Homo sapiens: one gene and its partners. The gene in region 5 interacts genetically with the main gene of each other region. Each region holds a gene or a part of one and is shown on either strand. Other genes may lie near its edges.

Evidence for each region.
Region 1: changes in NF2 (region 5) and ACOT9 together harm fitness more than expected from each alone (negative genetic interaction), as found in Homo sapiens cells (one large-scale study listed by BioGRID).
Region 2: changes in NF2 (region 5) and BRIP1 together harm fitness more than expected from each alone (negative genetic interaction), as found in Homo sapiens cells (one large-scale study listed by BioGRID).
Region 3: changes in NF2 (region 5) and PPP2R3C together harm fitness more than expected from each alone (negative genetic interaction), as found in Homo sapiens cells (one large-scale study listed by BioGRID).
Region 4: changes in NF2 (region 5) and PTTG1 together harm fitness more than expected from each alone (negative genetic interaction), as found in Homo sapiens cells (one large-scale study listed by BioGRID).
Region 6: changes in NF2 (region 5) and ARID2 together harm fitness more than expected from each alone (negative genetic interaction), as found in Homo sapiens cells (one large-scale study listed by BioGRID).
Region 7: changes in NF2 (region 5) and PRDX1 together harm fitness more than expected from each alone (negative genetic interaction), as found in Homo sapiens cells (one large-scale study listed by BioGRID).

Annotation. Positions count from the first base shown.
Region 1 is NC_000023.11:23,725,559-23,730,237, reverse strand, and holds part of ACOT9 (acyl-coenzyme A thioesterase 9, mitochondrial isoform a precursor), read left to right. Parts: intron 1-4,679. UniProt on the Homo sapiens protein: Mitochondrial acyl-CoA thioesterase. Catalyzes the hydrolysis of acyl-CoAs into free fatty acids and coenzyme A (CoA), regulating their respective intracellular levels. Regulates both mitochondrial lipid and amino acid metabolism.
Region 2 is NC_000017.11:61,779,287-61,783,965, forward strand, and holds part of BRIP1 (Fanconi anemia group J protein), read right to left. Parts: intron 1,720-4,679; coding exon 1,554-1,719; intron 1,116-1,553; coding exon 975-1,115; intron 1-974. UniProt on the Homo sapiens protein: DNA-dependent ATPase and 5'-3' DNA helicase required for the maintenance of chromosomal stability. Acts late in the Fanconi anemia pathway, after FANCD2 ubiquitination.
Region 3 is NC_000014.9:35,093,940-35,098,618, reverse strand, and holds part of PPP2R3C (serine/threonine-protein phosphatase 2A regulatory subunit B'' subunit gamma), read left to right. Parts: intron 1-1,854; coding exon 1,855-1,910; intron 1,911-1,985; coding exon 1,986-2,061; intron 2,062-3,434; coding exon 3,435-3,571; intron 3,572-4,679. UniProt on the Homo sapiens protein: May regulate MCM3AP phosphorylation through phosphatase recruitment. May act as a negative regulator of ABCB1 expression and function through the dephosphorylation of ABCB1 by TFPI2/PPP2R3C complex.
Region 4 is NC_000005.10:160,424,428-160,427,798, reverse strand, and holds part of PTTG1 (securin), read right to left. Parts: intron 85-3,371; coding exon 1-84. UniProt on the Homo sapiens protein: Regulatory protein, which plays a central role in chromosome stability, in the p53/TP53 pathway, and DNA repair. Probably acts by blocking the action of key proteins.
Region 5 is NC_000022.11:29,694,133-29,697,632, reverse strand, and holds part of NF2 (merlin), read right to left. Parts: intron 2,882-3,500; coding exon 2,831-2,881; coding exon of another isoform or gene 2,824-2,830; 3' UTR 1-2,823. UniProt on the Homo sapiens protein: Probable regulator of the Hippo/SWH (Sav/Wts/Hpo) signaling pathway, a signaling pathway that plays a pivotal role in tumor suppression by restricting proliferation and promoting apoptosis.
Region 6 is NC_000012.12:45,732,026-45,736,704, forward strand, and holds part of ARID2 (AT-rich interactive domain-containing protein 2), read left to right. Parts: intron 1-4,679. UniProt on the Homo sapiens protein: Involved in transcriptional activation and repression of select genes by chromatin remodeling (alteration of DNA-nucleosome topology). Required for the stability of the SWI/SNF chromatin remodeling complex SWI/SNF-B (PBAF).
Region 7 is NC_000001.11:45,511,457-45,516,135, reverse strand, and holds part of PRDX1 (peroxiredoxin-1), read left to right. Parts: intron 1-328; coding exon 329-482; intron 483-1,140; coding exon 1,141-1,263; intron 1,264-1,498; coding exon 1,499-1,629; intron 1,630-2,753; exon of another isoform or gene 2,754-4,679. UniProt on the Homo sapiens protein: Thiol-specific peroxidase that catalyzes the reduction of hydrogen peroxide and organic hydroperoxides to water and alcohols, respectively.

The DNA of each region.
Region 1 (4,679 bases), on a different chromosome or scaffold from region 5:
CCGTAATCCCAGCTACTTGGGAGGCTGAGGCAAGAGAATCACTTGAACCTGGGAGGCAGAGGTTGCGGTGAGCTGAGATCGTGCCATTGCACTACAGCCTGGGTAACAAGAGTGAAACTCCATCTCCAAAAAAAAAAAAAAAAAATGGCATCTACTACTTCTGAATTGTCATAATTTTTTTCTTATAAATGTAGATTCCTATTTAATGGAGGTATAGTCTGAATAATCTTTCTTACTAGTAACTTTAAAAAAAGAAAGTCTTAAACTTACAGAAAAGTTGCAAATACAGTATAAAGAATTTTTCTGTGGCCAGGCGCGGTGGCTCACGCCTATAATCCCAGCACTTTGGGAGGCTGAGGCAGGCAGATCACAAGGTCAGGAGATCGAGACCATCCTGGCTAACATGGTGAAACCCCATCTCTACTAAAAATACAAAAAATTAGCCAGGCGTGGTGGCATACGCCTGTAGTCCCAGCTATTCAGGAGGCTGAGGCAGGAGAATCACTTGAACCTGGGAGGTGGAGGTTGCATTGAGCCGAGATCGCGCCACTGCACTCCAGCCTGGGCGACAGAGTGAGACTCCGTCTCAAAAATAAAAAAGAAAAAAATTTTTTGTCCCTGAATTATGTGAGAATAAGTGGCTGACATGATGCCACATCACCCCCAAATATTTGAATATGTCTTTCCTACAAACAAGGACATTCTTCTACATAACTACAAAACAACCATAAAAAATCAGGAAATTAACACTGATGTGTCATACTGTCTAATCCTCAGGTCCCATTCAACTTTTGCCAGTGGTCCTTCATAGCAGAAGGATCCAGTTCTGAATCATATGTTGATTTAATTGTCATGTCAGGACTAGTTCCTTAATCTTTCTTTGACTTTCGTGACTTTGACATGGTTCTTTTGTGTATTGTCCCTCAATTTGGGTCTGTGTGGTGCTTCCTCATGATTAGCTTTGGGTTATGCATCTCTGGCAGGAATGTCACAGAAGGGATGCTCTGTTCTTATTGTATCCTATCAAGTGGTGCATGGTTTTGATTTGTCTCATTACTGATGATATCAGCTTTGCTTACTGGATGACGATGATGTCTGCCACTGTTCTTCACTGTAAAGTTACTCTTTTCCCCTTTGTAATTAATAAGTACCTTATGTGGGGGGGGGTGGCAGGTAACTTTGAGACCTTCATCAGACTTTCAATTCATTATTTTTAAATCAGTATGGACTCAGGAATTCCTATGTTACTGAATGGACTATAATATGTTACTATCATCTATTTGATGTTCACATGATCCCAGGAGTGTCCCAGTCCCTTCAGGCTAGCTTCTGTGTGGTTTTCTTTGATGTGTCCCCATTATTCTTTGAGCACTTTCTCACTTTCTGGCACAATAAAATATTCTAGGCTCATCTTATGCTTTTCCCTGCCCCAGTCCTAGAATCACCCACATCTCCAAGGAGCCCTTTTTTGAAATGGAGAATGATATTTTGAAGTGGAGGATGATATTTTGAAATGGAGATATGTGCGTTGGGAGTGGTCATTATTCCTGGGTATCACTGCTCCCATACCCTCTTAGTGGAGGAGCTGGGAAATATATGTGCATATACGTACATATATGTTATTTCTAAATCTTTGTACAGATGTATGTATGAAAACCATGGGATCGCACTGATAGCTCCAATTCCAGTTCAGCCACCACGGGGTTCATTCTCATTTCCTTCCTTTCCATATTTGTAATTCCCTTCTCCAACTGGCTCCATTCTCCTTAATATATTGACTTATTTAATCAGTTCCGCTGTATGTGACCAATTTCCTATGGCTGCCACCCCTCATGCATCATGGATGCTCCCCTCACCTTACCTGGGCTCTGGTACCCCACACCAGGTCCCCCTCTGCAGGCTCACCCTCTTCATTGTGCTCAAGCTGTGACATGCTCTGCCATCACTCTTGCAGCCTCTCTGCAAGGATGTCCTCCTCACCGTGCTTGGATGCCAGCACCCTACTCTAGGTTACCTTACTTGCTCCCACCTAATGATATTTGGGCTGAATGGTTGGGAAAGGGTCTGAAAAAGGGTTCTAATATATTGTTTAAAAAACTATTTTTTTATAGAGATGGGGTCTCCCTGTGTTGCCCAGGTTTTTCGTGAACTCCTGGGCTCAAAGGATCTTCCTGCCTCAGCCTCCTAAAGTTCTGATTACAGGTGTGAGCCGCCGTGCCTGGCCTTTTTTTTTTTTTTTGAGACAGAGTCTCACTCTTGTTGCCCGGCCTGGAGTAGAGTGGTCCGATCTTGGCTCATTGCATCTTCTGCCTCTGGGTTCAGGCGATTCTCCTGCCTCAGCCTCCTGAACAGCTGGGATTACAGGCACCCGCCATCACATCTGGCTAATTTTTGTATTTTTAGTAGAGACGGGGTTTCACCATGTTGGCCAGTCTGGTCTCAAACTCCTGACCTCAGGTGATCTGCCTGCCTCGGCCTCCCAAAGTGCTGGGATTACAGGTGTGAGCCACCATGCCAGGCCCTAACTTTTAAAATATAGATACAAGCTTGTTGTTAAGCTTACGCCTAGCAACTACTTTTCTCTAGATTAAATAAACCCAGTTAAAAATTCTTGGCTGGGCACAGTGGCTCACACCTGTAATCCTTGCACTTTGGGAGATCGAGGCAGGAGGATCGCTTGAGGCCAAGACTTTGAGACCAGCCTGGGAAACATAGTGAGTCCCCATCTCTACAAAACCCAAAAAATTAGCTGGGCATGGTGGCATGCACTAGTAGTTCCAGCTACTCAGAAGACTGAGGTGGGAGGATTGCTTCAGCCCAGGAAGTCGAGGCTGCAGTGAGCTGTGGTGACACCACTGCACTACAGCCTGATTGACTTTGGTTTGCTTAGGTGTCCTTATATATACAAACTCCCCTGCCACTACCCTCTTTCTTGCTCATTAACTTCTGTTGATGGCCAGTCCCTTTAACCTGTTCACTTGATTCTATTCCTTCTATTTCTTCAAGGAACTGCCTTATCACTTGGCTTTCTCCCTCATTTCCTGAGCCTTTTCTCAACTTCACTTTTCCCTCAAGTTATAAACATATTCAAGGTTCTTCCATCTTAAAATGAAAAATAGGCCGGGCAGGGTGGCTTACGCCTGTAATCCCAGTAGTTTGGGAGGCCGAGGCGGGTGGATCACTTGAGGCCAGGAGTTCGAGACCAGCCTGGGCAATATGGTGAAACCCCGTCTCTACTAAAACTACAAAAAGTAGCCGGGCGTGGTGGTGCGTGCCTGTAATCCCAGCTACTCGGGAGGCTGAGGCACGAGAATCGCTTGAGCCTGGGAGGCAGAGGTTGCAGTGAGCTGAGATAGACTCCAGCCTGGACAACAGAGCGAGACTCTGTCTCAAAAACACAAAAATTAGCCGGGTGTAGTGGCATGTGCCTGTAGTCCCAACTACTCAGGAGGTTGAGGCAGGAGAATGGCTTGAACCCGGGAGGTGGAGGCTGCAGTGAGCTGAGATCGCACCACTGCATTCCAGCCTGGGTGACAGAGTGAGGCTCTGAGTCAAAAAAAAAAAAAAAGATAAGTAAAAAATCCTCTTTCCTTATAACACCTCACACTTTCTTCCTTACTTCATAGCTCACTTTCTGAAAAGAACCTAGAAAATCACCTGCTCTCATTGCCTCTTTATGCTAACTTCCTGTTAATTAAACATTTCCCGGTCGGCTGTGTTCCGGCTTCTGCTCCTCCACGCCATTGAATCTGCTCTTGCCAAGCTCGCCATTGGCCCCTTTACTGCACAGTTGAATGGATACTTTTCAGGGCTGACCTGACCCCTTTGTGGCTTCTTATATCGTCCAGCCCATCCTTGGGCTTTGGTGACATTTCCTTCTGCTTCTCTGGCTGCTCTTTTGTAGTCCCCTTTGTAGGTTCCTCTTTTTCTGTTGATCCCTTAAATGTAGGTTATCCCCAGGGTTTTGTCTTCTGCCCTTTCAAAAACTGATTATTTTTTGAATTTATTTTATTTTATTTTGTTTATTTATTTTTTTTGAGCTGTAGTTTCGCTCTTGTTGCCCAGGCTGGAGTGCAATGGCGCTATCTCAGCTCACTGCATCCTCCATCTCCCGGGTTCAAGGGATTCTCCTGCCTCAGCCTCCCATGTAGCTGGGATAACAGGCACACACCACCACGCCCGGCTAATTTTTTGTATCTTTAGTAGAGACGGGGTTTCACCATGTTGGCCGGGCTGGTCTCGAACTTCTGACCTCAGGTGATCCACTCGCCTCGGCCTCCCAAAGTGCTGGGATTACAGACGTGAGCCACTGCGCCCGGCCTTTTGAATTTTATAATTTGTTCATATTAATTAAATTTTAAGGCATTTTAAAATTTAACAATAAAATTGTTAAATCTTTTAAAATTATTTATTTAGTTTTTGAGACAGGGTCTCACTCTGTCACCCAGGCTGGAGTGCAGTGGCGTGATCACAGCTCACTGTAGCCTTGACCTCCTGGCTCAAGCAGTCCTCCTGCCTTAGCCTCCTGAGTAGCTGGGACTACGGGTGCACACCACCATGCCCAGCTAATTTTTTTGATTTTTAGTAGAGACAAGGTCTGCCATGTTGCCCAGGCTGGTCCCAAACTGCTGGACTCAAGGGATCCCCCCACCTCGGCCTCCCAAAGTGTTGGGATTACA
Region 2 (4,679 bases), on a different chromosome or scaffold from region 5:
ATTATACAAGCTGGGCATGGTAGTACATGCCTGTAGTCCCAGCTACTCAGGAGGCTGAGGCAGGTGGACTGCCTGAGCCTGGGAGTTTGAAGCCAGCCTGGGCAACATAGCAAGCGACCTTGTCTCTAAAAAGATAAAGTCTGGCCAAAATGGCAAAACCCCGTCTCTACTAAAAATACAAAAATGTGCCAGGCATGGTGGCATACACCCATAATCCCAGCTACTCAGAAGGTTGAGGCAGGAGAACCGCTGGAACCCAGGAGGCGAAGGCTGCAGTGAGCCAAGATCGCACCACTGCACTCCAGTCTGGGTGACAGAGCAAAACCTTGTCTCAAAAAATAAAAGTAAAAATAAAAATACAGAGATAAAATAAATAAAATATAAATAGGCTGGGCACAGTGGCTCACGCCTGTAATCCCAACACTTTGGGAGGCTGAGGCAAGTGCATCATTTGAGGGCAGGAGTTCAAGACCAGAATGGACAACATGCTGAAACCCCATCTCTACCAAAAAAATAAAAAATTAGCCAGGCGTGCGGCGCACACCTGTAATCTCAGCAACTTGAGAGGCTGAAGCAGGAGAATTGCTTAAACACGAGTGAGCCAAGATCACACCACTGCACTCCAGCCTGGGCAACAGAGCCAGACTCTGTCTCAAAAATCAATCAATCAATAAATAAAACATAATTATACAATGAGAATTAAAGAAATCAAAATTTTGTTTTCATTACAAAACTAAAACTTACTTAGAAGAAGAAGCTGAAATACAGCCTTTTGCATCCCAAGTGACTGGATTATTTCCTTCTGTTGACACATCATTAAGTAGCTGACAGATTTTCTTTTATTGTAAAACTGGAATGTTGAATTTCCTACCAAGATTTACTTGCTGGCACTTCAGGTATCTTCTAACTTGTTTACATAGTTATATTGAAGTAGAAACACTGAAGGCCTTCCAAAAAAAAAAACAACAACTAACCTGTGAATTTTTAATGATATGATTAGCCTCCAGCTGGATAGTAAATGTAACACCAAGTTCTGACGAAAAGGATTTCATTGGTGATAATGTACCAGATGTCAAAACAATGGTCTGAACTTTGCCATTAATATCTGAAAAGGCCTAAAAGAAAACAACATTAGATAAATAAAATTATCTTTAGAAGAGGCTGGGCAAAGTGGCTCACACCTGTAATCCCAGCACTTTGGGAGGCTGAAGCAGGAAGATCGCTTGAGTCTAGGAGTCTGAGACCAGCCTGGGCAATATGGTGAAACCCCGTCTCTACAAAAAATACAAAAATTAGCCGGGCATGGTGACACATGCCTATAGTCCCAGCTACTCGGGAAGCTAAGGTGGGAGGATCGCTTGAGCCTGGAAGGTCAAGGCTACAGTGAGCTGAGATTGCACCACTGCACTCCAGCCTGGGTGAAGAGCAAGACCCTGCCTCAAAACAACAACAACAACAACAACAAACAACTATCTTTAAAAGAGTCAACCACATTTATTAAAATGCTGGTACTGAGCAAGAAGACAAAATTTCCATTTACATGATGAGCTTACCACAGCTGGATTTAAGCACCAAAAGTTTAGCACATGAACTGCAGTTTTCTGTCGTGAACGTTTCTTATTTTTTGGTAGAACCAACAACCCATTTTTGTCTGAAATATCAATCTGATTTGTCCAGGAGTAAGTCTGTTGAATCGCAATTTTATAATCATCTGCAAATCTAGATGCAAAGAAAGTGCTAATTAAGTGGCAAAACTTTTAAAACCTATGACCCAGCTACATACAATATAAAAACTGATTACATTAAAACTCATTTGAAAGAGCTGGTACCTTCCCATTCAAAAATAACATTCTCCTTACCATTAATTAAATTCAGTAATTCTGATATTAATAAAGCCATTAATCATAGAATCAACTGATTCTCAGAGGGAATATTAGAAATCATCTAACCATCTATCTTTTATCAGCTACTTCCTAACCTCATTTTCAAACATTACATATGTCATGGCAGAAGCAGAATTAAAATCCAGGCCTCCTAACTCCCAGTCCAGAGCTCTCTGCATGCTCTACTACATGATGAGTTACAAAATAGAAAACAGTATTATGGTTAAAGAGACTAAAAGGTGGGTTATACTTTTTTATTAAATGAGAAAATAGAAGGATAATTTTTACTGAAAGTTTTTAAAGTATTAGCAACAAGTTATAAAATTCTTACATTCCTTTGAAACCTGAGTCTCAGCCTTCATCTACTTTTAATGAAGGTGCTGAACCAGATGATATCTGTGATCCCATCCAGTGTATAACTGCTTTCAATAAGAATCTAGAAAATGGTTAAGCTTAAAAATAATAAAATGTGGCCAGGCGCGGTGGTTCACACCTGTAATCCCAGCACTTTGGGAGGCCGAGGCAGGTGGATCACGAGGTCAGGAGTTCGAGACCAGCCTGGCCAACATGGTGAAACCCCGTCTCTACTAAAAATACAAAAATTAGCCAGGTGTGGTGGCAGTCGCCTGTAACCCCAGCTACTCAGGAGGCTGAGGCAGGAGAATCACTTGAACCCGGGAGGTGGAGGTTGCAGTGAGCTGAGATAGCGCCACTGCACTGTAGCCTGGGTGACGGAGCAAGACTCCATCTCAAAAAAAAAAAAAAAAGTAAAATGTGATATTCTCTACCATGTCTTCGCTATAGTATTTCCTTATTCATTTCACTCCTAGAGAGATTAGATCTCAAAATTAAAGTTGGGAACTTAACAACTGTGGAGAGAATCTTATAAAAATACTGGGAGCCAAAAACTGTAAAACTCTTAAAACAAAGGGGAGACCGGGTGCGATGGCTCACGCCTGTAATCCCAGCACTTTGGGAGGCCGAGGTGGGCGGATCACGAGGTCAGGAGATCGAGACCATTCTGGCTAACACGGTGAAACCCCGTCTCTACTAGAAAATACAAAAAATTAGCCGGGCTTAGTGGCGGGCGCCTGTAGTCCCAGCTACTCGGGAGGCTGAGGCAGGAGAATGGCATGAACCCGGGAGGCTGAGCTTGCAGTGAGCCGAGATCGCGCCACTGCACTCCAACCTGGGTGACAGAGCGAGACTCCCGTCTCAGAAAAAAAAAAAAAAAAAGGAAAAGAAAACATAGGGGAAATCTTCATATCAGATTTGGCCATGATTTACTGGATGTGACACTAAAAGTACAGGCAACAACAAGAAAAGAGAAAGATAAATTGGACTTCAACAAGATTAAAAACCTTTTCTGCATCAAAGGACACTATGAATAAATGAAAAAACAACCCACAGAATGAGAGAAAATATTTGTAAAGTATATATCTCTTACAGGACTGACATCCAGAATATCTAAATAACTACAGCTCAACAACAACAACAAAAAAACCCAATAATTCAAAAGTGGGCAAAAGACTTCAATAGATATTTCTCCAAAAAAAGACATACAATTGGCCAATAAGCACATGAAAAGATTCTCAACTTCTCTAGTCATTAGGAAATACAAATAAAAACCAGATGATATCACTTGATACCTATTAGGATGGCTATTATACAAAAAATAAAATAACGAGTGTCAGCAAAAACAATTCTGATATATGCTGCTACATAAACTGTTGGCAAGGATGTGTAGAAATTGGAACCCTTGTGCATTGATAATGAGAATGGAAAATAATGCAGTTGCTGTGAGAAACAGTATGGTGAGTCCTCAAAAAGTTAAATGCAGCATTACCATATGATTCTGCAATTCCACTGCTAGGTACTTATATACACCCAGAAGAACTGAAAGCAGAACTCAGATATTTGTACACCAACGTTCATAGTAGCATTGTTTACAATAGGCAAAAGATGAAAACAACCCAAATGTCCATTAACATAAGAATAAATTAACAAATTGTGGTATATACATACAATGGAGTATTATTCAGCCATAGAAAGGAATGAAATTCTGATATATGCTACTACATAAATGAACTCTGAAAACACTGTGCCAAATGAATTGAAATAAGCCAGACACAAAAAGACAAACATTGTATGATCGCTCTTATGTGAAATACCTAGAAAGGACTTCATAAGATGAAAATAGAATACAGGTTAGCAGGTGATGAGGGGAAAGACTCTAGGGGTTATTATTTCATGGGTACAGAATTCCTATTTGGAATAATAAAAAATTTCTGGAAATCTCTGGAAATGAGTACAATGTACAACATTGCAAATATACTGTACTTAATGGCACTGAGTTGTATACGTAAAATGGTTAAAATGGTGTATTTTATGTATATTTTACCACAATAAAAAAAAAATACCAGAACTAGGTACTACTATAATTTAAGTTACAGGATGAGAGGGATTGGTTGTTTTTCATTTTCCACAGTTCATACAATAAAAAAGGGACTTTCTGACACTGTAGGAACATAAGAAAACTTTAGCAATAGAAGATAATTTAATATGAATTAATTAAATATATTTATTTAATGATTTCAATATTCATTAATATAAAAGACTAATTTTGGCCAGGCATGGGCTCACACTTACAATCCTAGCACTTTGGGAGGCTGAGGTGGGAGGATCACTTGAGGCCAGGAGTTCAAGACCATCCTGATCAACATAGTGAGATCTCATCTCTACAAAAAAAATAAAAATTAAAAAATTAGCTGGGTGTGGGTGTTGCACACCTGTAAT
Region 3 (4,679 bases), on a different chromosome or scaffold from region 5:
TCAGCACTCTGGGGGGCTGAGTTGGGTGGACCACTTGAACTCAGGAGTTCAAGATCAGCCTGGGCAACATGGCAAAACTTTTTCTCTACAAAAAAAATACAAAAATTGGCTGGACACGGTGGCTCACACCTGTAATCCCAGCTACTCGAGAGGCTGAGGCAGGAGAATTGCTTGAACCCGGGAGGCAGAGGTGAGCCGAGATCGCGTTATTGCATTCCAGCCTGGGCAACAAGAGGGAAATTCCGTCTCAAAAAAAAAAAAAAAAAAAAAAACTAGCCAGGCGTAGTGACACACGGCTGTAGTCCCAGCTACTTGGGAAGCTGCTGAAGTGGATCACTTGAACCCAGGAGGCAGAGGCTGCAGTGAGCCAAGATCGGGCCACTGCACTTCAGTCTGGGCAACAGAGCCAGACCTTGTGTCCAAAAAAAAAAAAAAAAAATCCAGTTATGAATCCAATCACAGCATATGGTAGCTGACAGTGTTTTTTGAACTCCTCTACTATAAGTACACACATATATACTTTTTCAAATTTTACAAAATAATATCACGTTTTGACTTATGTAGTATGCTAAGCATTTTACATGGATTCATTCATTTTCATCTCATAACCCCATAAGGAAGGTACATTATTGTCCACATTTTATGTGTAAGGCAACTGAGACTTTGCTAGGTTACATATTTAAAAGTGGCATTCAAACTCCAATCTGGGCTAGGTGTGGTGGCTCACACCTGTAATCCCAGCACTTTGGGAGGCTGAGGTGAGAAATCACTGGTGCCTAGGAGTTCAAGACCAGCCCTGGCAAGACAGACCTCTTCTGTACAAAAAAGCAGCAGCAGCCAGGCGCAGTGGCTCACACCTGTAATCCCAGCACGTTGGGAGGCTAAGATGGGTGAATCATCTGAGGTCAGGTGTTCAAGACCAGCCTGGCCAACATAGTGAAACCCCATCTCTACTAAAAATAGAAAAAATTAGCTGGATGTGGTGGTGGGTGCCTGTATTCCCAGCTACTTAGGAGGCTGAGGCAGGAGAATCGCTTGAACCCAGGAGGCAGAGATTGCAGTGAGCTGAAATCACACCATTGCACTCCAGCCTGGGCAACAAGAGCGAAACTCTGTCTCAAAAAAAAAAAAAAAAAGAACAAGAACAAGACAAAACAAACTCTGCTCTTAAACCACACCTGTTTACCTGCGTATTGCTTTCTAGTCCAGAACCTGCCAAAAATAAATGGAGACAGTGTCCCTGTTCGTGTACCAGCAGTACTATATCTATAATCACAACTTTTTTGAAAATCTGACATCAGTATAATTTTAGAATTTACCACTTAGATTTATATAGTTGAGGTATACAAGTAGAGATGTTATTAAATGTTGCCTGTAGGTTTCTCTTTTTTTTTTGCAGGGTGGGGATGGAGTTTTGCTCTTGTTCCCTAGGCTGTAGTACAATGGCTTGATCTCAGCTCACTGCAACCTCTGCCTCCCAGGTTCAAGCGATTCTCCTGCCTCAGCCTCCAGAGTAGCTGGGATTACAGGCGCCCTCCACCACACCCAGCTAATTTTTTGTGTTTTTAGTAGAGATGGGGTTTCACCATGTTGGCCAGGCTGGTCTGGAACTCCTGACCTCAGGTGATCCACCTGCCTCAGCTTCCCAAAGTGCTGGAATTACGCGGTGAGCCACCGCGCCCAGCCGAGATTTCCCTTTTTGTAGCAATATGTAATAAGGACTTTGGAGCATAAGAGCTAGAAGCTTTAAAATATCAATTGTGTGATTGCTCTTGTTAAAAAAATTTTTTTTTAATTAATTGAGTTGCTCTTTTCTTAAAATGAAATTAATTGTGTTTCTTTATGTTCTTAAAGGAAAGATAAAAATTCAAGATATTTTAGCATGCAGCTTCCTAGATGATTTATTGGAGGTAAATGTTTTTAAACTACTTAATTGTATCACTTGACAGTTGCTATCTTCTAATTATGTCTTTGTGTTCCATTAGCTAAGGGATGAGGAACTGTCCAAGGAGAGTCAAGAAACAAATTGGTTTTCTGCTCCTTCTGCCCTAAGAGTTTATGGTATGTTCCTATCATAATGCTAAAATTTGAATTATCCATTCTTCAGGAAATTGGTGTTCAGAGGACAGTTTTATACATACACTGATATACCTTAAGATCAAAATATTTAATTACCTTAAGCTTTAGTATTCTACATTACCAAAATTTACTTGTTTAAATACCGATGTTTTAACTTTTTGGACTCCCCCCAACCTTTTCTTTTTGAAGACAGGGTCTCACTCTGTCACACTGGCTGGAGTGCAGTGACATGATCACGGCTCAGTGCAGCCTTGAAGTCCTAGGCTCAATCCTCTCACCTCAGTGCCCCTACCCCACCCACCCCACCACCCCCAGTACTGGGTCTACAGGCGCCATGCCTGGCTAATTTATTTTATGTTTTTTTAGAGATGGGATCTCACTGTGTTGCCCAGGCTGGTTTCAAACTCCTGGGCTCAAGCAGTCCACCTGCCCTGACCTCCCAAAGTGTTGGGATTATAGGCATGAGGCACTGCACCCAGCAGAACCCTTTTTAAGTTATACACTTCCTTTTCAATAGAACAGAATGTAATTTGATCCTTGTTGACTCAGGAGCATCATTATGAACATTAGCTATTGTCATGCTTTGTTGATAAAATGCTATTCCCAGGGTCTACTGATGGAGCTAATCTACATTATCTTGTTGGGTGGTCTTTTGACTCCTTTGGCTTTTTTTTTTTTTTTTTTTTTTGGAGATAGAGTCTTGCACTGTTACCTGGGCTGGAGTCCAGTGGCATGATCTCGGCTCACTGCAACCTCCACCTCCCAGGTTCAAGTGATTCTCCTTGCCTCAGCCTCCCAAGTACCTGGGATTACAGGCGCTCGCCACCACACCCGGCTAATGTTTTTTTTTTTTGTTTTTTTTTTTAGTAGAGACGGTGTTTCACTATGTTGGCCAGGCTGGTCTGGAACTCCTGACCTCTGATCTGCCCTCCTCAGCCTCCCAAAGTGCTGGGATTACCGGCGTGAGCCACCACGCCCGACCTCCTTTTGGCATTCTTATCTCTACTTTCAAGTGCTAGCATTTCAGTGCTTTTTGTTGGCCTCTACCTCCATTTAATTTAGAAACCTAGGAATGTTTAAAAAGACTGCAAACTGAAAACAAATAATGATGTAAGTGAAACAGCCCAGAGACTATGGCCTTCATGATGGGTTTTTTTGGCTGTTTCTAGCCCAAGGGTTTTTCTGATCAAGATTGCAAAGGTAGCTGATAGTATTACACATAGGCCACTACCCTAATCATAACATGAATAGTTTGAAAATCAAAATATTAACCAAGAAAAAACTTTTTGTTAGTCTATTCTTCTGATTAAAATTTTATTGTGGTCATAAGTGTCTTTATTATTTTTCTTCCCAAGGCCAGTACTTGAATCTTGATAAAGATCACAATGGCATGCTCAGTAAAGAAGAACTCTCACGCTATGGAACAGCTACCATGACCAATGTCTTCTTAGACCGTGTTTTCCAGGAGTGTCTCACTTATGATGGAGAAATGGTAGTAGTTTAAATCTGCTGCTAAGTTTTAAAAGTTTAGGCTCCCAGAGTTTCCACAAACCCTTTTCTTGATGTAATACAGCCCTTTTTTTTTTGAGACAGAGTCTTGCTCTGTCGCCTAGGCTAGAGTGCAGTGGTGTGATCTCCGCTCAATGCAACCTCCACTTCCTAGGTTCAAGTGATTCTCCTGCCTCAGCCTCCGGAGTAGCTGGGATTATGGGTGCATGCCACTGCATCCAGCTAATTTTTGTACTTTTAGGAGAGATGGGGTTTCACCAGGTTGGCCAGGCTGGTCTTGAACTCCTGACCTCAGGTGATCTGCCTCCCAAAGTGCTGGGATTACGAGGCGTGAGCCACCACACTCGGCCCAGCATTATTGATATCACTGTGTAACAGTGTCTTTAAAATGTGTAAACTGATCAAATTACTTGAGATTCAGAGTCTTTGGTCTTAACGTAAATTAAAACATCTGCATTATGGCCTCAGGGCAAATAGAAAAGCTTATTGTTCATTTCATTGTCAGTGCACCTACTGTACAGTAGTGCATTCTAGTTTTTTTTTTTTTTTAAAAAAAAGCTGAGGCCAGGCTTGGTAGCTTATGGTTATAATCCCAGCGCTTTGGGAGGCCAAGGCCACAGAACCACTTAAGGCCAGTCGTTCAAAACTAGCCTGAGCAATACAGCGAGACTGTCTCTACAAAAAATAAAAAAATTACTTGGGCATGGATGGAATGTGCCTGTAGTATAGCTACTCGGGAGGCTGAGGCAGGAGGATTGCTTGACCTGAGGAATTTGAGGCTGCAGTGAGCTATGATGAGGCCACTGCACTCCAGTCTGGGCAGTAGAGTGAGACCATGTCTCTTAAAAGCTGAAACATTAGTAAATTATTCTGGCTATTTTCAGCTAGATAGTTCCGTCATTAAATTACCAGGTCAAATGTAGTAACACATATGCCATGATTTAATTCTGAGAATCAGGTTGTATTAGTCTCTAGAAGTGGCTATATGAACAGCTGAAGATAACATGCACTTGTCTTTTTATTATAACAATGCAAAATACTTGAGAAGGAAAATTCTAAACAGCATTTTAAAATCACCATTTTTGCTGCTA
Region 4 (3,371 bases), on a different chromosome or scaffold from region 5:
CCTCGTCAAGGATCATGAGAGGCACTCCACTCAAGGGGAGGTGCGCAATCTGGTGCTCTTCAGGCAGGTCAAAACTCTCAAAGTCTGTTACAGAGAGAAAGCGTTTTTGTCAGGGCAGCAGTTCTTAGTGTGGGCTGTAGATCCCTTGTGGTCTGAGACCCTTTGAGGGGGTCCATGAGGTCAAAACTATTTTCAAGACAATATTCACACCTTTTTCCACTGGGTTGACATTTGTAATGATGGTACCAAGGCAGCGGTGGAGAAAGCTGCTGGTGCCTCAACACAAATCAAGGCAGTGACAGTAAACCATATTAGCAGTCTCTCTGTTCTGCATCCTTCTTCGCTTGTAGTTTAAAAATGCCAGTTTCACTTACTGTCACTTCACCATATGCAGTAGAAAGTATTAATTTTATTAGCTCTCCATCCTTGAGATGTCTTTTTAATGTTCTGTGTGATAAAATGAGAAGTATGCCATAAAGCACTTCCACTGTACACCAAAATACGATTAAAAGGATTTGTGCAACTATATGAGTTGCAAGCTAAAACTAGAGAACATTTTCCTGGAATACTGTTTTTACTTGAATTAACAACTGCAAGAAATCCCATGGTCACTCAGACCTGGGTGCTTGTCACACTTTTTCTTAAAGGAATGAAAGAAGTCTATCACCTCAAGGAAAACTGACAGCCTTTGTTGCCAATGGCAGAATATAAAACGTTAAAATTTTGTCAAAAATTAAAAAATGAATATTTTTTTTTTGAGACAGAGTCTCACTCTTTCACCTAGGCTGCAGTGCAGTGGCACAATCTCCGTTCACTGCAACCTCTGCCTCCTGGGTTCAAGCGATTCTCCTGCCTCAGTCTCCCAAGCAGCTGGGATTACAGGTGCGCCCACCACACCCGGATAATTTTTGTATTTTTAGTACAGACGGGGTTTCACCATGTTGGCCAGGCTGGTCTTGAACTCGTGACCTCAGGTGATCCGCCCGCCTTGCCTCCCAAAGTGCTGGGATTACAGGCGTGAGCCACTGCATCTGGCCAAAAAAAGGAATTTTGGAAAACTTATCTGCAGTCATTAGCTTGACAGGTGCTTAGACTTTTCTGATGAGATCAGTTGTGGTATTAATGTGCTTTTGATATTGTATAATAAAGCATCTCAACATGTGGGTATCTACATATCTCAGTGAACCAGTATTTCTGAATGGTCAATGCAAGATAGATGCAAGAATATAAGATACATTCCAAGTGCAAAATAGACCAATGGATTTTACTGTCAAGATACAAAATGCTCATTGATACGGTTTCAGATTCCACATTGCAATTTTATATTCAGAAACAGCCACTTGTGGGTTTTAGTGTAGTGGCAAAAAAACCTATCCACACTTATCTGAAAAGACTATTAAAAACGTATCTGTGTGAAGCCAGGTTTTCTTCGTATATTTTAACAGATGTAAGAGTGAATATAGAATTTGATAAGAATCCAGTTGTCTTGTATTAAGCCAAATAAAGCAAATTTTCAAAAATATAAACCATGCCATTCTTCTCCAAACTTTTCCAGAACAAAAAATATTTTATGTTAAAAAAAAATTTACATTAATGTAATGTGATTACTTAGTGAATAAATATCTTAAGTTTCTCAGTCTTAATTTCTAATACAGAAAAGAGCAGATCACACAAGCAAAAGTGGTCTTCAATAATTTCTAAGAGTGTAAAAGGGTCTTTAAAACAAAACAAAAAAAAATGGAGAACCATTGTGTTAGGTAACATTCATTCTTAAAATCCAAGTACCTTACTTCTTAGCAATTATTTTTAAAAAGTGATTTTTCTGTACAGTAACAAAAGTAGGATTTAACACTGAATTTTCTTCAAGGAGCTGTTTTCTCAAAAGATTAGAAAATCATGGTTTTCCTTATCTTTGTCCGTAGGTGTGAAAGTTCTCTAAAGCCTAAGTACTCAAGAATTAGTCTGCTCTTTTACAAGCCTGGTAAAACCCAGAAGTCAAAAAGGAATTGAATGATATGTGACTATTTAACTTAAAACCACTGAATTGTAAAGGAAACCATAGACAGAAGACTCCAGAGGAAAGAAGTTTGCAATATAAGGGGAGCTAATTTTATCTACAAAGAGCTCTTTAATCAAAGAAAAACACAAACCGGAAGTTAATAAAAAAAGAAAAACTGTAAGTGGCCAATAATCAAATATGTTCACCATACACACAACAAATTTAAAACAATGAAATATTTCTTTTCTGATAAAGATTAGAGTTTTAAAACATTGATAGTGAACCTGGAGGAAGCAGACATCTTCATCCACTGTAGACGGATTTAACAATTTACACTATTTTGAAGGGCCACTTAGCAATATCTCTTTCCTGTAACACAGGATATTGTGGTCTTCATTCTTCATCAATATGCATAAATCTACCTCATTTTCCTCAATGGCTGAATGGTAATTATTAGCACGGATGCACCACATTTTATAATTTTAAAACTTAATCACACAAGCCCTTGAACTCAGCAATCCTTCTCAAAGTTTCCCTCCAGATGTACTCACAAACTTACAACAAGATCATTTCAAGAATACTAATCATAGAAATGTTTGTAGTTTCTAAAAGCCAGAACAATCTGAATGCAAATTAGTAAAATAACTACATGACCTCTTTGGCTAAATAAAAGGGTAAAAGATCCAGCTCAGAAATCCGTAAGGCCCTCCCTGATCTGATCCCACACCTCACCTGTATCCTCCTTTACCCTGCCTGTATTTTTCCTAGAACCACTTTAGTCTCTTTTCCTACCTCACGATCTTTGCACCACTTTGACCTACAATGCTGTTTTTTCTGGCTCACTCACAGTGAGATGACTTGTCCAGCATCTGACTTTCCCTTCAAATTATGGGCTCCCATAGGCAGGGCCCATCTTGTTAAACAGTGTGTCCAGGACCTAAGGATGCCTGACACACAGTAGCTTCTCCTGAAATGGTTGAGTAAATTAAAGCTTGAAAAGCTGTTTCCAAAACAGAAAATACTTCAGATACATGTAGCAGGTTGAAGAAATTTGAAAAACATGTCTTCACTGTCTTATGTAGATTTTTCAAACCAAAGAAATAATCCTACCAAATTACTCTCAGGCATTGCTCAACTTGACATAAAGCTCACTTCTAAAAGCCTTGTGAGAAAGACTGTCCACAATGGGACTTATTCAATGTTCATGAATACATCTTACCTCCTCTAGGTGATAAGCTTTTACAGACAGGAACAATGTCTTCTACATCTTTGTTCCTATTCCCCTCCTGACCTAAGATGATACCTTGCAAATAATTCCATCAACAAGTACACTTGTCCAAAGCAACCCAGATTCAGACAGTCTCATCATAGT
Region 5 (3,500 bases):
ATCACGCCATTGCACTCCAGCCTGGGCGACAAAGGCAAAAACTCCGTCTCAAAAAAAAAAAAAAAAGGATGCAGTCATCCCAGCCACAGGAACCAGTCTGTGAAAACCAGGCATCTCTTTCTTTCTTTCTCCTGCTACTGGGGCTTGAGATGCTCCTGAGGCCCATCCTCCTCTCCACCTTCTCCATCTGTGGGGAGGCACCTCAGTATTCCTGCCTCAAGGAGGGGGAAGTGCTCCTGGCTGAGCAAGGTCCTGCAGTTCCCAGCCTGCTCCCTGGAGCCCCAGGTGCTTCTGCCACAGCTCAAACACCAGCCAGCTCCCTTGAGGCCGCGTGGCTTGGCACTTCCCAGACTTCAGAAGTAGACACGGCAGCTAAAGAAGGAAACAAAGCCCGACAGCGTTTTTATAAACCACCATATGCTCCCACCTGCAGCCATTGTTAAAGAACAAATTTACAGGTCAGGAGGAAAGTAACTCCTGGTGGAAATCCAGGGATGGGCTTCAAGACTGAGAAGAGACCGGGCATGGTGGCTCACGCCTATAATCCCAGAACTTTGGGAAGCCGGGGTGGGAGGATCACCTGAGGTCAGGAGTTCGAGACCAGTCTGGCTAACATGGCGAAACCCCATCTCTACTAAAAATACAAAAATTAGCCAGGCATGGTGGCACACGCCTGTAGTCCCAGCTACTCGGGAGGCTGAGGCAGGAGAATCTCTTGTACCTGGGAGGCGGAGGTTGCAGTGAGCTGAGATCGTGACACTGCACTCCAGCCTGGGCGACAGAGCGAGACTCCATCTCAAAAAAAAAACAGAAACAGAAACAGAAAAAAAAAAAAAACGGAGGAGGCAGAGCCAGACCTCACTTTACAAACGCCTGAAGCTTCCGCTCCTGGCTGGGTCACACTAGGAAGACACAGGGCCACAACATCCATACTTACGCTCTAGGTCTGGAGTCCCACCCTGTAGACCCTAAGTGGCTGGGTGGCACCCAGGGCTGGTTTCCTTGGGGCAAGGTGACCCAAGCAGTTGCCGAGCAGCCCAACCCCATTAGGTCAGCCTGATAGTAGGAAGAAGGCAGGATCTCTGTGCTCTGTGAGCTGCTAAGTTTCTCAAAACCAGATGGAATTGCCAGAGACCACCTCTGCTCTCCAAAAATCTTGAGGCCCCCATAGCCTCTATCTTTTATCTGATTAAGACAAATCACCTGCTTTGCATAACAGCCAAACTGGAAGGATCTCAAGGGCCCTGGCTGGCCACAGCAGCATCAGCCATGGAGAAAAGAAAGGGCAAGAAGGGGCTGGGTGCAGTGGCTCATGCCTGTAATCCCAGGTGTGAGTTTGAGACCAGCCTAGCTAACATGGCAAAACCCCGTCCCTATTAAAAATACAGAACATTGGCCAAGTGTGGTGGTGCATGCCTGTAGTCCCAGCTACTTGGGAGGCTGAGGCAGGAGAATTGCTTGAACTCAGGAGGTGGAGGTTGCAGTGAGCCGAGATTGTGCCACCACACTCCCACCTGGGTGACAGAGAGAGACTCCATCTCGGAAAAAAAAAAAAAAAAAAAAAAAGAAAGGGCAAGAAGGTGGCCCCAGACCAAGGAGTGAGCCGTGGGGGTGGTTCTGTGGCCCTCTGTTGCCTGGCATGGAGGTGGGTCCTGTGACAGCCTAGGTGAGCGCCACCTGTGAGTGGACACCTGCATCAGGCCTGTGCTGGGAGGGGCACAAAGGGCCCTGGCTGGCCCCCAGGGAACAGAAAATTCAGGGCCCGAAGAGGGACAAGGGCAACAGCAAAGTGAGGCCTGGGTACAACAGTGGGTTGGGAAGTGGGCTGTGGCCACTGGCACGTGGCTGGGAGGGAAGGTGAAGCAGATGGGCCGTGCAGACTGGGCCGGTGGAGCTCAGAGTCTGGGCCAGTGAGAAGCAGCACCTGTGGAGCCACAGGGCTTACAGATCCCTGGTCATAGCCGGGTTACGGGTGCTGACTGCAGTACGACCAGGGAGTACCCCAGCCCCACACAGGAAGGAGCGTCTATGGGCGTCGGGCAATGGGGAAGACATGAGTGGCTCCTGCCTGCCTCTCGGACCCTGGTCTAGGGTGGCCGGAGGGGGACAGCGAGTGCCCTGTACCATCAGCTCCCGCACGGCACTACCCAGCCCCTCGGCTGGCAGTCAGCCTGCATCACAGCTTCTGCCTAAAGTCTCTCCCCAGCCACAGCTGCCCTGCCTATTCCCCACCAGCTGCCAGCCAGAGCGCCGCCTCGGGGTGCCTGGCGGGGACCCAGCACTTGCTCGTCACGAGCTCTGGGCGGGCTCCCTGACGATGAGAAGCCGGCAGGCGTGCTGGCCTGGGATCCGCCGGGCTGGGCTGCTTCGCTGCATGCCAGGTCCTCACCGGTGGGGGAATGAATGTTCCGGAACCCTGGGCGGGGTGGGGATGATGGCACTGGCTTCTCAGGGCTTCAGTGTCTCACTCCCTACAATGACTTCCCAGGCTGGGCGGTGGAGGTCAGCTCTGGAGTGCAAGACACACACACACCGGTGCCTTGGACGAAGGGAGTCAGGAATCCCACATTAGACAAAGGAAGACAAATACTTCTTAAAACAAAGACTCAGGTCAGAGAACTAGAACGCCATGAGAGAAATCTCTACAGGGTCGTAGTTCAAGGCAATTGCACATAAGAGGGGCTGGGCTCTTCACTCAGCTGGGGAAAGTTCTGGAGCTCCCACGGAAACCCCCAGCCAGCTCCCTATGGATGGCTCTCTTGATATCTGGTCCATCCCGCGGTCCCGGTAGCAGGAGAAGTGGCAGGTCCTGGGGTGGCTGGGTCACCTGCTAGAGCTCTTCAAAGAAGGCCACTCGGGACTTGGCGCTCTGCAAGGTGAGCTGTAAGAAAGCAGAGAAGAAGCTGAGAGGGCACAAGACCTCCGCTCTGTCACACAGGGTCCTGTCCTGCCACTTGGACTCACCTCAAAGGTGGCTGGGAGCGAAAGGGAAGGCTGTTCAAATAGATGCTCAAGAAGTTGGCTGTCAGTCCCAAATAAGCGGCCAGATTTGCCCAATAATTCAAATTAGGAGGTGACAAATGAGGATGTGCAAGGGGAAGGCTGGTGGGCAGAGGCACGCCAGCAGGAAAAAGCCGTCAGCATTGCCTCTTGACAGAGGACCGGAGATCCCTGCCTATTTTAATAGATTCTCACATTCCCATCTACCAAGGTCCCTGAGCCACCTCTGTGGTGTGCTGTCTGTGGCGGCACCAGCTGAGGCTGCTCATCCCCTCCGGGCTTGGCAGGGCAAGCATCTTAGTCCTCATGCCCTGGCAACATGGCTGGGGTAAGGTGACGTGGCCTGAGGCAAGGCAGGCCTGTGGCAGATGAGGAAGAGTTTACCCCTTCTACTCCTGGTTTCCCAGGTGGTCCCGAAGCAAACTTGCTCATGACGTGGCAGCTGAGAAGGTGTTTCTCTCCATGAGCTGGAGGCAACGGCTTTCTCAGTGTGGCTTGTG
Region 6 (4,679 bases), on a different chromosome or scaffold from region 5:
AGTTGGTATGTGATACAGTCTAGATGATATATTTTGTGATTTAGCGTTTTTTTTTTTGCCTCTAGTTTTTCTTCTAGGAATACTTTCATACTGTAATTTATCATGATGCTGTGTTTTATTTTTAAAGTGCTTATCTTAGAGGATCCTAAGTTAGTTGGTGTTATTAAAAACTAAAATGATATTCTTTGTATTTATTGCTTTTTAATAGTGATAGTACAGGCCTTTTTTTGTAAGGTGGCTTCTGCATAATTTGAGTTTTGCATTTATTATTGCTTCAGATGCACTCAGTTATTGTGTATTACGTTCAGCATTCTGAAATAGGAAATGCAGTAATCGCACAGGTGTACTTTCTATTGGCTATCTTAGATTGACTTCAGGCTTGAAGCTGGAGTTCGCAGAACTTTGTGGAGTAGTTATTGAGTTACACAGGAAGTCTAGAAAATATTAAATATGGTTGTCATCTATTGTGTGTGTGTGATGGCATTTGTGTCAGAGTACATTTTAAATTAAAGGGCTAAATCAAAAAGCAAAATTAACCTCCAAAACCGTTGAGTTAGTAGTGGGGTGAGAAACAAGAGAGTTTTATATTCATCGTGACATTCATTTGCTCATTTCTATTTATGATATTGAGAGGAACATGTTAATACATATTCTGGTTTTATGTTTTTATCAGTTTAAAGCATTTGAATTTTGGACTGTTTGAAATACATATTTTTGAAGTTTTGCTTCATATTTGTTAGATTGATTGACTTAAGTTTTATAACCAGAAAGTACTATAGAATATACATGATTCATGAGATGTATATTTTTCTGAAGAGTTTACATTCATACTAATAGTTTTAGCATAATCAAATTAATATCTAGGCTTCCAATTTTTTTTAACAAAAGTTAATTATAAATATTGTTTTTCCAGTTGTCATTTTTATCTTGGGAGGATATCATTAATTATAGGTACTGTTTTTAACTATATAGTTTCAACATTGTAAGTATTTACATGGTCTTCAGATCAAATTGGGCTTTTTGCTCTTATTAGAAGCTGCTTTTTGAACTATGTCCTTAGTTAAACTTGTTTTTCCTCCATATGTCACTCTCTAGGTTTGTTTTTGCAGGGTTGTAGCTAGGCTACTAGGAAAAAAGTTGAAGCATTTGTTTTGGAAAATAAAACCATGTGAAGATTTGCATGGCTTGTAAAGAAATACAAAAGAAATATGCTGGTCAAAACTTAGGTACTACCAACCTTGAAAGAATTTTTTCCTGGTGGTCTAATATTGCACAGTAAGAGGATATATATGATGCTAGCTTTTACACCTTCCTCTGAAAAATCTTAATTGGCAGACAAGATGCCAAGTAACAGCAATTCTATTACCTACCCATAAGATTGGCTCTTCATAGTAAGAAATAGTAATCGAGTGACTTGATAAGTTACCTCTTTGCTACGTCAGATTGAATATCATCATTACTGATGAGCAGATAATGCAGTGTGTTTTTTAAATTACAAGTGGAATAATTTTTTAATATGAACTGCTTTTTCATTTGACCTATTGTAAGACTGTCATTATATGTGTTATTCCTCCTTTACAAGTTTAATATTTGCTCACATTCCCCTGTAAGTTTGCTATTAATTGGATGGATGGCTGTTAGCCTAGTGTTTTATGATATATCTTCATAATATTACAGATAATTTAAATTAGGAAGAGCAAGCTAGTATGCTGGCCATGTATATTTTAATAGTGTTTTGTTATTTTTGATACAAATATTGACAGTCATTAAATATAGACTTGAGTATTAATGGTCTGCCAGACATTAACTTAATTTTCTCAAATATACATTTATTCAGTTATAGCTTGTCTACAAAAATTTCTTAGAGTCTAAAATTGAAAATGCAATTGATTATTTTAACATTGGCATTTAATTTTTACAAATATAAGTGCCTGCCTGTATCAAAGTTTCTCACCTACTCCAGAAATATATACACGTACTGTGTACCCACAAAAATTAAAAATTAAAAAAAAGTAAAGTGCTTACAGATAATGTGTAAAAGCAGTCTATTTAAAAATTGGAGGCCAGGTGCGGTGGCTCACGCCTGTAATCTCAGCACTTTGGGAGGCCGAGGCAGACGGATTACCTGAGGTCAGGAGTTTGAGACCAGCCTGGCCAACATGGTGAAACCCCGTGTCTACCAAAAATAGAAAAATTAGCCTGGCATGGTGGCTCATGCCTGTAATCCCAGCTACTTGGGAGGCTGATGCAGGAGAACTGCTTGAGCCCGGGAGTCGGAGGTTGCAGTGAGCGGAGATCGTGCTACTGCACTCTAGTCTGGCCGACAGAGTGAGACTCTTTCTCAAAAAAATAAAATAAAATAAAATAAATAAATTAAAAATTGGATACTAATCATCTGTGATGTTTATGCACTTTATTTTCATGTAGTTCCTTTTCTTGGCATGTACATCTCAATGTGTTCCACCAATGTTTATTATTAGGATATTCCTATAGTATGAAAGGATAAGGTATAGTTTCCCACATTTTGTAGATGGAGATATTAAAGTGCAAAAAAAAAAAAAATTAAATGGCTTAGGGAACATTTCATTAATTGGACCAAAATGTTGTGTTCATGACGTGTTCAATAATATTTGGAAATTACTTATGGTTAAATTTATGCCCAAGTATCTCTTTGCCTAATGTGTTCCATATTTACTTGGTGGATTTTAATTTTTTGTTCTGTTTTGTTGTTGAAATTGGGGGACAGTTTGCTGGTCTTATCTGGGTTAAGAATTTGAAGTTTTGGTATGAAGATTTAGGTAAATATTTCAAATATTTTAAAATTTTGTTTTTGCTTACTGATGCCAATATTACAGCTATAGTCAAGGTTAACTTGATGTTTCCTTTATAAAACTTGATTTTTTTGGAAAGGGGGTGAAATATCTTGGACATTAAAAATTTATTGTACAAAACTATATGTTACTAGTTTTCTGGCACTGAAATATTCATTTCTATTTATATGTACCTACCTTTAGAATAGTCAGAAACTTAATTGTAGAGTTATGTTTACCATAGTACATTTTCAATCGCATTGTGAATTTATTCTATTTTTTTTTTCTTGGTGGGTAAAGCTCTTTCTTAAATTACACCATTTGAGGGAGTTTACATTTGTTAGTTAAATTGAATGAATACACTCATGTGTTCTCTAGTTAGTGTCCACCATATAGATCAATTCTTTTAAGAGAAAGCCTTAGGTATATAAGCACTGAGTTTGTAAATTGCTAAACGGAACTGAATAAACTGATTGCCCTTCTTATTCAAGGAAGGAAAATAAAAGTATATGGAGATTGGAAGACAAATATATCAATAAGTTATTCATGCATGTATTTCAAATTTAACTTTATAAACTGTATCGTGTGTGTGTGTGTGTGTGTGTGTGTGTGTGTGTGTGTGTGTAGACAGGGGTCTTGCTTTGTTGCCCATGCTTGTCTTGAATGCCTGGCTTCAAGGTATCCTCCCGCCTCAGCCTTCCAAAGTGCTGGGATACAAAAGTGAGCCACTGTGCCTCAGCCTTCCAAAGTGCTCGGATACAAAAGTGAGCCACTGAGCCTGGCAGTGTATCCATTTTAAAAAACAAAAAACCTGATTTTGATATTTTCTGATATTCTGTTACGTTTTTAAAGGACATGCAGACTTGTTGAAAGGAAGAGCAGAAAGTGGAGAAAGTTGAAAGACTTATCAAAGCTCAGCTAGGTTAGTGTTATGTCTTAGAATCCATGTTTTTAGAGCTTAAATTGCCCAAAGTAGAAATAAATTGAGTTCTTTCTAAGACAGATAGTTTTCACTGAGGTTACAAATTTTCCTGAGGATACAAAATGAGAACATTATAATTCCCAAAAATGTTTATATGCTTTTTTTTTGCAGTTAAATTTTCTACCTTAGCTGTTAACTAAAAATGTCCCTGAATAGAAGCACTCTTTCATAATCCTATCTCTGCTTTGTTGTGGATTCAGTATTTTCATAGTTGATCGTGTGAAATCTATAACGTCTTTGATAGACAAGTATATTGTGGCCGGGCGTGGTGGCTCACGCCCTGTAATCCCAACACTTTGGGAGGCCAAGGCAGGCGAATCACAAGGTCAGGAGACCAAGACCAGTCTGGCTAACACAGTGAAACCCTGTCTCTACTAAAAATACAAAAAATTAGCTAGGCGTGGTGGCATGCACCTGTAGTCCCAGCTACTCGGGAGGCTGAGGCAGGAGAATCACTTGAACTCGGGAGGCGGAGCTTGCAGTGAGCCGAGATCGTGCCACTGCACTCCAGCCTGGGTGACAGAGCGAGACTCCGTCTGAAAAAAAAAAAAAAAGTATATTGCTACTAGATATTTTATATTCTCAAACTGAATGAAATTAGAAGTTGGAAAGGAAGGAAAAACACAGTTTTAACTGCATTTCATTAGTCAGTGAGCAGGTACTTAATATATATTTTTAGGTAAAGTATTTAAAAGTTTTAATTATATTGTGAAGGTGCTTATTGGGTGTTTTCCAGACCTACTAAAGTTTAATGATAAAAATGGATTTTGTCTGAATTGGGAAGGACATAGAGGATAAATGGAGCAGACGGATGGGGTTGAGGGGATTCTCCTTTTGCTGCTTTGATCACCACAGTCTTTGGTATTCAGGGCCAACTAGAGTTTGTA
Region 7 (4,679 bases), on a different chromosome or scaffold from region 5:
CCTTGCTTTTGCTATCTTTGGAGAACTTGGTGTTTATGTTAATTTTAGCCACTCAGAAAAGATCAAAATTAGACTGAACAGTGTTTACTCTGTATTGGTAGCTATGACATGGAGGCAGGAGAATAAAGTATGGGATTGGAAGTTTTTTTCATTCAGGTATTCCTAATGCACCAGGTTCTAAAAGTAGCTTCTAGGAGACATCTGTATTGAGCATCTTGGCAGTTAGTGGTTATTGTGTCAGCCATCAACTTGCTTCTTTTTGTATAGGAAAATATAAAGCAAGGAAGTCTGTGTCAAATGCTAACCATGACTCCGATTTTCCCCCCAGGAAAATATGTTGTGTTCTTCTTTTACCCTCTTGACTTCACCTTTGTGTGCCCCACGGAGATCATTGCTTTCAGTGATAGGGCAGAAGAATTTAAGAAACTCAACTGCCAAGTGATTGGTGCTTCTGTGGATTCTCACTTCTGTCATCTAGCATGGTAAATCTCTTGGTCTATTTGGCATGTGAACTTTTTTTTTTTTTTTTTTTTTTTTGAGATGGAGTCTTGCTTTGTCGCCCAGGCTGGAGTGCAGTGGTGTGATCTCCGCTCACTTCAAGCTCTGCCTCCCAGTTTCACGCCATTCTCCTGCCTCAGCCTCCTGAGTAGCTGGGACTACAGGCGCCTGCCACCATACCTGGCTAATTTTTTGTATTTTCAGTAGAGACGGTGTTTCACCGTGTTAGTCAGGATGTTCTTGATCTCCTGACCTCGTGATCTGCCCACCTCAGCCTCCCAAAGTGCTGGGATTACAGGTGTGAGCCACTGCACCTGGCTGGCATGTGAACTTTTAAAACAGCAACTGGGAAGCTTTGGCAATAGACTTTCAAGTATTGCCTTCTCATTGAAGGGAGTGCAAAGTCTGACTTTCTCTTATTGCTCTCATGACCTGGCAGCAGAGAAGAAGCAGCTTCAATTGCAGTTGAGTGTACCCTAGTGACCTACCTTAACTGTTCTCAGCATTCACTTTATTGCTGGAAAACGGAAAAAAAACAGTCTTTTTGGAAAGTTAGATTAGGAATATGGGAAAGGGGAAAGAGGAATGCGTACAGTCAAGTCAAGAGTTTGAATGTAACTGTATGTTTGCCTTTTGCCATAGGGTCAATACACCTAAGAAACAAGGAGGACTGGGACCCATGAACATTCCTTTGGTATCAGACCCGAAGCGCACCATTGCTCAGGATTATGGGGTCTTAAAGGCTGATGAAGGCATCTCGTTCAGGTATGTCATCAGGACAAGTATCCAGTTGGCTGAAAGCCTTTTATTTGGAGAGATCTAGAGCCCTGATCTGTAGAGACTCCTTGTCATTTCATTCCTTTATGCAGGGGCCTCCTCACTAAGGCCAGGCCAGTAGGAGTGTGGAGACCAGTCCATTTCCTTCAGGCTTCAAGCCTCTGTATTCTAACAAAGCACATCTCTAAACCTGTATTGCTTTTCCTTTCATCTCTTTTCCCAGGGGCCTTTTTATCATTGATGATAAGGGTATTCTTCGGCAGATCACTGTAAATGACCTCCCTGTTGGCCGCTCTGTGGATGAGACTTTGAGACTAGTTCAGGCCTTCCAGTTCACTGACAAACATGGGGAAGGTAAGCCATCTGTCTGATAACAGGACAACAGAGTGGTGGTATGAAGGGGTGGGTTGCCCCTTCACACCTGTGGGTGTTTCTCGTTAGGTGGAATGAGAGACTTGGAAAAAGACACGTAGACAAAGTATAGAGAAAGAAATAAGGGGGCCCAGGGGACCAGTGTTCAGCATACAGAGGATCCCGCCGGCCTCTGAGTTCCCTTAGTATTTATTGATCATTCTTGGGTGTTTCTCGGAGAGGGGGATGTGGCAGGGTCATAGGATAATAGTGGAGAGAAGGTCAGCAGATAAACACGTGAACAAAGGTCTCTGCATCATGAACAAGGTAAAGAATTAAGTGCTGTGCTTTAGATGTGCATACACATAAACATCTCAATGCCTTAAAGAGCAGTATTGCTGCCCGCATGTCCCACCTCCACCCCTGAGGCGGTTTTCCCCTGTCTCAGTAGATGGAACATACAATTGGGTTTTACACTGAGACATTCCATTGCCCAGGGACTGGCTGGAGACAGATGCCTTCCTCTTGTCTCAACTGCAAAGAGGCGTTCCTTCCTCTTTTACTAATCCTCCTTAGCACAGGGTGTCAGGCTGGGGGACCCCGGTCAGGTCTTTCCCTTCCCACGAGGCCATATTTCAGACTATCACATGGGGAGAAACCTTGGACAATACCTGGGTTTCCTAGGCAGAGGTCCCTGTGGCCTTCCGCAGTGTTTGTGTCCCCGGATACTTGAGATTAGGGAGTGGTGATGACTCTTAAAACGAGCATGCTGCCTTCAAGCATTTGTTTTAACAAAGCATATCTTGCACAGCCCTTAATCCATTTAACCCTGAGTTGACACAGCACATGTTTCAGGGAGCACAGGGTTGGGGATAAGGTTACAGATTAACAGCATCTCAAGGCAGAAGAATTTTTCTTAGTACAGAACAAAATGGAGTCTCCTCTGTCTACTTCTTTCTACACAGAGACAGTAACAATCTGATCTCTCTTTTCCCCACAGTGGTAGAATGGGAAAGATAGTAGGAACAGAAGCTACCAAATAAGAAAATGGGTATCTCTCTTCATAAATTGAAGCCCCTGGATTACAGTGTGTTGTGAGGGTGAGGGTAATGGAAAAGCTTGGGAAGGAGAATATAAAGGCTTTTTATTCAAAGTATACATACTCCTCTCTTCTGTCCTGCTCATTTAGAATCAGTCACTCCCAAAGATCTAACTTACTGAATGTAGGATGATCTCACAGATGTATTAGGGCAAAACAAAATGGTTGGGAATCACCTCTAGAGATAAAGCATGCCATTTTTTAAATAACTTTATTGAGAGAAGAGGTTAATCCATATAGTTCATATTTTTATTTATTTATTTATTTTTTGCAAGATGGAGTCTTGCTCTGTTGCCCAGGCTGGAGTGCAGTGGCGCAGTCTTGGCTCACTGCAACCTCCGCCTCCCCTGAGCCATTGCGCCCAGCCCAGACTAGCTTTCTAAGGCCTATTTCAGCTCTGATCTTGTAATTTAAAGGAAATGAAGTTATTAGAGTCTGGATTAGTGGTGTATGTTTGGGAAGACCCAAAGGTGCTAGCTTGGCTAGCACCAAGTAATCTTTTTACAGGGATTAGAGTCTGATTATATAGGGATCAGTGAGCACTGATAACCAAGAGGTACCCTTTGCAGAAGGATGTGTGGGCAGTTAGCCTGGACAGATGACACATGGCTCAGCTGACACCTGCTGAGACTGCCCCCTTGTGGGAGATGAGGTTCAGCATTAAGAAGGAGGCAGCAGTGGCAAAGTAGGCCCTTTAACTGGACTTTCCTAGGAACCTACATATAGGTTAGTCTCCTGAACCCAGGCTTTCATAACTCAGAAGCTTGCTTCTTCAGACTCTGTTGGTCTCTGCTGCTTCCCATCCCACTGGAACATGTACAGCCTCTTAAATAGGTACCATTTAAGAGCCAATGAATGCCAAACACTTTTTTTTTTTGAGACAGAGTCTTGTTTTGTCGCCCAGACTGGAGTGCAGTGGTGTGATCTCAGCTCACTGCAGCCTCCACCTCCTGGGTTCAAGTGATTCTCTTGCCTCAGCCTCCTGAGTAGCTAGGACTACAGGGGTCCACCACCACGCCCCACTATTTTTGTATAGTCCCAGCTACTCGGGAGGCTGAGGCAGGAGAATGGCATGAACCCCGGAGGTGGAGCTTGCAGTGAGCTGAGATCGCGCCACTGCACTCCAGCCTGGGCGACAATGTGAGACTGTCTCAAAAATTAGCCAGGTGTGGTGGTGGGCGCCTGTAATCCTAGCTATTTGGGAGGCTGATGCAGGAGAATCGCTTGAACCCGGGAGACCGAGGTTGCAGTGAGACGGAGGTGGAGATTGCGCCACCGTACTCCAGCCTGGGCAACAGAGGGAGACTCCATCTCAAAAAAAAAAAAAAAAAAAAAAAAAAAGAAAAATAAGAGATTAGTCCCCTTGCCTCATTTTCTTCAGGCTAGCCTGAGGCACATTCTTAGGCATTGTCAGGAAAAGGTTGAAGGCTGTGCTTTCTGTATAAATCTATGAAAAATTTCAAACTCTGCCTTTTGCTTACCAAGGGGTAGATGGCAGTTACTTAATGAAACAAGCGGGGGCTTCTGTTAAGTTCTTGATCCTTTATAAGGTTCAGGCTATCCAGTTTGGTAGAGTTAGAAGAATGCTGAGAAGGCAGACTGAGTTTGCTGTCTTCAGAGCTCTGAAGGGCTGTCAGAAACAGTTTAGTGTTAAGGGTTTACATAGTCCTATGTGTGTCGTTTATTTAGCTTTTTTTTCCCCTTAAGGATTAGAGAGTGTTGGCAAATTATTTAAACTTTGCCTTTTTTTGTGGAAAATTTAAATTTCAAGTGCTACATGAATAAATTAGGCATGATAGTATCTTAAGGCTGTGGTGATGATTATATGTTTGTAAAATGGTTAGCTCATACTAAAAGGGTGAATGATCTAAGACTGATTGCAGGGGTAGGTTTCCTGGTATCTGAGTGTTCAGGTGCAGAACTGGTTTTGTCCATAGGAGAATGGTGGTGCATA